2 separate regions of the Homo sapiens genome follow, and region 1 is linked to region 2. A link means that fine-mapping ties the variant in region 2 to the expression of a gene that starts in the linked region. Tissue or cell type: whole blood. Region 2 holds a variant in brackets; the other region holds the start of a gene. All regions are shown on one strand. Distances are between the middles of the regions.

Region 1 (2,617 bases), 35 kb after region 2:
GGGGTACTGGATTGGCTCTATCTGCTGGACAGTGGGGTTCCGGGCCATGCAGCGGAGAGATGTTTCCCAGGAGTTGGGCCTTGATAGGGAGGAATAAGGTTGAGGAGAAAAGGATATCCAGATAAACGCCACCTTGCCCATGGTCACCTAACCGCGTCCAGGTCCCCAGTGAAACCTCAGTAATAAAGCCAGCATATATGATAACCAAGGCAGGATACATAGAAAGAAGCTCCAGAAGTTCTCTCCATCCCTAGGAAATTGCTAGGTGGCTTCTCATCAGGGGATTTTCCTGGATCCCTCTGTGGGTTTTATCCACACCATACAGGGAACAAACTCATTATATACTTGGCATTTCTTAGGAAAATGTGAGGGCAAGAGAAATGTAGTTTGAGCCCAGAGCTATTTGAGACCGGGGCTAGAATGTTACCCCCTTCATAGTGCACGAATATGCACACATGCAAAGTAATTTCTGGCAAGGAGATGAGTTTCCCGATTTTACCAACAAGAACTGGGCTCACGCCTGTAATCCCAGCACTTCAGGTGGCTGAGCTGGGCAGATCACGAGGTCAAGAGATCGAGACCACCGTGGCCAACATAGTGAAACCCTGCCCCTACTAAAAATACAAAGATTAGCTGGGTGTGTTGGCATGCACCTGTAATCCCAGCTACTCAAGAGGCTGAGGTAGGAGAATCGCTTGAACCCAGGAGGTGGAGGTTGCAGTGAGCCGAGATTGCGCCACTTCACTCCAGCCTGGCAACAGAGTGAGACTCCGTTAAAAAAAACAAAAAACAAAAAAAAGAATCTCCCAGGCAGGGAATGCAACTGGCCTCAGAAGAACCGCAGTAGCAAGAAGTGGTGGCCATAAAGTGGACTTACCCATGAGCAGGAAGAGGAGAGAGGTCTGTAGAACAGAAGAGAATATTTGCAGCTGACTCCTCTGTGGCTTACTGGAGAAAGGCCCAGGAGCCCAGTCATCTGTGTGACTCTTTGGTGCCACCATGATGATCTATTTTCAGAACTGAGACTGAAGGAGGATGCACTTACCACAGCTTCCGCACGTGTCACAGCTTCTGCATGTGTATATGAGTGTGTGTGTGCATGTGTATGTGTATGTGTGTGTGTCTCAGAGGGAGGGTTGTTTATACAAAACACCACAGACTCCTCCCATCTGCGCAGGCAGGTAGAGGTCCCAAGTCTATTCAGGGCCTCATTTGTGACTGATGTGGAGCATCACTTGCTTTGACATCAAGGGACTTGGGTTCTAAATTTGGCTCCTAAAGGTGACTGCTAAAGATCTGTACCTCCTGGCATTCATGCCTCTGTGTAATCACCTCTTCTTTAGTGTGGCCTGGATTTAGTGACTTGCTTCAAGTGAATAGAATGTGGCAGAGATGTGGGATGGGTCACTTCTGAGATTAGGTTACAAAAAAGCTGTGACTTCCATCTTGGGTTAGCATGTGTGTGCATATGCGCTCTCTCTTTCTCTTGCCCTCTCTCCCTCTCTGTCTTTCCCACTATCTCTGTCTCCCTACCTTACACTGAGGGGAGCCAGGTATTGTTTTGTGAGATACTTTAGGGAGAGGGTTCCAAAACAAAGAACAGAGGGAGGCCCCCAGCCAACAATCGGCGAGGAGCTGATTCCTCTGGCCAACTGTCCATGAGGACTGAGGCTAGCCAAGAATCACATGAGTGAGACTGGAAGTGGATCCTCCCCAGGAGGTCCTTGAAATGACTGCAGCCCTGGCTGACACCGTGATGTTAGTTGTGTGAGTACCTTAAGCCAGAGGCACCCAGCTAAGCCATGCCCAGATTCCTTATCAAGAGAAACTGTGAGATAATAAATGTTTGGTTTTTAAATTTTTTTTCAATTTTTTATTTTTCATCAAAAATGCTTATTGTTTTTAGCTGTGAAGTTTGGGGCAATTTGTTACACAGCAACAGATAACTAATACAGTGACCCAATACATTTTCTATTTTGCTCAAGGCAGTTTGTGCTAGCTTTCTGTCACATGCAATGAAGGACTTTTAATATGGACAAAGGCATCAGGGAGACTGCAATGGGGGTGGACATCGTATGTGACAGCGTAGAGGTGACTGAGTTGAAAAGGTAGGCTGGAGAATGGCATGATTCCCTATATCCTGACTTGGGAAACTGTCTTTTTCTCCTCCTTCTTCTTGTCAGTAGCGTAATAGCTGGCCATGCTATGGTTTGTGTTTCGGGCTTCAGGTCATTTGTTTACTTAGGCTGTAACATTAAGGGGACTTGGCAGGAAAACTTGAGGCTGGCAGAATGTGTAGTTTTAGCTAATATTCGATGAAAGCTTACAGAGTGCTAGTCCATCTTCTGACACTTTAACATATTCACTCATTTGATCTTACAATAGTTTTATGAGATATCTTTTATCATCCCCATTCTATAAATGAGAAAACTGAGGTGGAGAGGGGTTAAATAGCTTACTATAAGTTTTATAGTTAGTAAGGACTTGAACCCAGGAAGTCTGGGTTCAAAGGAAGAAGGGAGAGAGAGAGAGAAACCATTAAGATAACAGGCTTATGTCCATGGAAAGCATCTTTAGAGGCTGGTCATGATCTGATGTTGCACAATATTGAAAGTGA
Region 2 (2,622 bases):
TTCCATTTATACTCAGAGAAATTAAGGCATGGAGAGCATCCCCCAACCTCCCCCACTACCCATTAGCCTCATACTACACCTGAGCCTCCCCACCTGTGGTCCAATAAAGATGCTGCCATTGGTCAGAAGGGAGGGATGGGTGGCTGCCTGCTGGAATTCCTGGCACTTCAGCTATCACCCAACATTAAAGCCAACTGGACAACCCAGGGTCATAGAGGGCACTGTGTAGACCCAGGTAGCTTGTGAGGTCATGAAAAAGCATATGTGGTTAAGAGAGTACTGGAATTGGAGCCAGAAGAACTAGATTCAAGTCCCTCCTGCACTTCACACTAGTCGTGGATCCTGAGTAATTTGTTTTGTCACTCTGAGCTTCATTTTTTAAATCTGTAAAATGGGGATGGCAAGTCATACCTCACAGGATTGTGATAAGGACCTCCCAGTGCAAGGGTCTGAAGTTTCTCCTTTTCTTTTGCAGATTGGAAAGAGTCAACCTAAAGCCCAGAACCCTGCTCGATTGAGCCGCAAAGAGCTGGAGAACTTTGATGTTTATTCCTAGTTGCTGCAGCAATTCTCACCTTTCTTGCACATCAGCATCTGCTTTGGGAATTGGCACAGTGGATGACGGCACAGGAGTCTCTATAGAACAGTTCCTAGTCTGGAGAGGATATGGAAATTTGTTCTTGTTCTATATTTTGTTTTGAAAATGATGTCTAACAACCATGATAAGAGCAAGGCTGTTAAATAATATCTTCCAATTTACAGATCAGACATGAATGGGTGGAGGGGTTAGGTTGTTCACAAAAGGCCACATTCCAAGTATTTGTAATCTAGAAAGTGTTATGTAAGTGATGTTATTAGCATCGAGATTCCCTCCACCTGATTTTCAAGCTGTCACTTGTTTCCTTTTCTCCCCTCTCTGGGTTGACTGCATTTCTAGACTCTCGCCGGCCCAGGCCCATCTTCCAAAGCAAGAGGAAGGAATGATAATGGTGACTCAGGGGAAGAAGAAACAGCCCTCCTCTGAAAGCCTGGACTGTCCGGCTGTGAACTGGCTGGCAGGTTCTGCACGTGGGTGGGGGCCAGGGCCTGGGCTTTACTCAATTGCAGAGAAAAAACTTTCTCCCTGCATCTCA[T/C]ACCTTTACCTCTGGCCAGTTGGCCACCAGGGGGAGTGGGCTGAAGGGAGAGTAGATGGTGCAAAGCAAGCCCATCTCTAAGTAGAAAAATCACCCAGAGCACATGCTGACCTGATAACTGGGGTGTTGAGACCAGCTTTGTCCATGGTATGATGTTTGATTTATGAAGACGCATTGTTAGAAATCCATTTGGCTTCTTCATAGAAGTGGCTTCCCAGAGGAAGAGGCCTCTCAGAAACCATGTTCTATTTAAGTTCTGAGTCCTGATGAGTGTTCCCCAGGATGCACATTGAAGGGAGGGCTCAGGCAGCTGAGGGCTGAGAATGAGGCAGTTGGAATCTAGACACTATGCTGGGTTCCCTGAGTCGTCAGGCCAGACATTTCAACAAGGCTGTGGGGAGCAGGGCTGTGACTCTGGCTGAGCCCAGGAAAGCGACAAGGGTGAACTGGGAGAGGACTTACTCAGAGACCCCAACAGGTGATACTGCACAAAGCCTGGTTCTTCAATTTTCCTACCCTGTATCTAACATAGGAGTTTCATATAAAACGGTGATATCATGCAGATGCAGTCTGAATTCCTTGCCTGAATTAAATTTATGTATCCTCTCCATACCCTGCATTTTTATTCTCTATAGCAGCCGAAGGGCACTTGTGGGCCATCAACAAACACATGTCTGTTTGAACACTGCTGTAGAGGGTCTGACTTCCTGGTGAGCTGGCAGTGTCCTTCAGCCCTGTTCACACTGGGACAGCAGAGAACTAGACACTAGGGGCTATTCCATCTTGTGAAGGAGAGCCAAGGCACTCACTTGGTCACATCCTGCAGGATCCCTTTCCCCTGAGACTGTGCTGCTGGCCAGGCTGGTTTCCTCCTGGAGAGAAGTGTGAACAGACCACATCTTAAAGCAAGTGAGAAGCTTAAAAACCAGGCAAATATATTCAGAAAGAGCCTGGGGGTCCAAGGCAGGTACTGGGAGTTGAGTTGCAGAGTCAAGGAGTTTAGTGAGTAGAGGCAGCAGGAAATGACGGGGTTCAGAAACAGTCCAGATGAACACCAGGGACTCTGACCATTGACTGCTGCTGGCCTTTCATGTGTCCTGCATAGATCTTGAACTGGCCAGATTTATTTAAGGAGCAGAAGAGACCCTATGGGGTCAGGGCTTTTGAGGATGCTGTATTCTAGAAAGAAAGATGTACAAGGTCATCATGTTATGTGTCTGATTGTTGAGCTTCCGTGACAATGCCTCACAAAGATAATTATCCATGCAACAAGCCAGTCAATGAACAAGCAGTAATTAAGCTCCTGCTGTGTATGAAGCACTGCCTGAACTCCTGGGAGTACCCACTGCAGGTGACAGAAGCCATACTGAGTTCAGGATCATGTGCAGGAGAGCATGACAGAGGCAGCACACAATTAAAGGACCTAGATGGGCTGCAAGGTGATGGTAACAGAAATGTACACTAGAGTATCACGAATATAAGTCAAGTA

What was found. PIP is the estimated chance that this variant, and not a neighbour inherited with it, causes the effect.
Region 1: it holds the start of LY9, and the variant in region 2 is fine-mapped to the expression of LY9 in whole blood (TOPMed, PIP above 0.99).

The regions. Positions count from the first base shown.
Region 1 is chr1:160,794,572-160,797,188 of GRCh38, reverse strand. It overlaps LY9 (lymphocyte antigen 9), which reads right to left and starts at 1,015. Exons shown (of 10, transcript NM_002348.4): 1 at 878-1,015. The coding sequence starts at 1,001.
Region 2 is chr1:160,829,281-160,831,902 of GRCh38, reverse strand. It overlaps CD244 (CD244 molecule), which reads left to right. Exons shown (of 9, transcript NM_016382.4): 9 at 476-1,743. The coding sequence ends at 556. Among named protein-coding and RNA genes, the nearest start is that of CD244, 32 kb to the left of the region's middle. The variant T/C (reference allele first, on the strand shown) is at 1,134.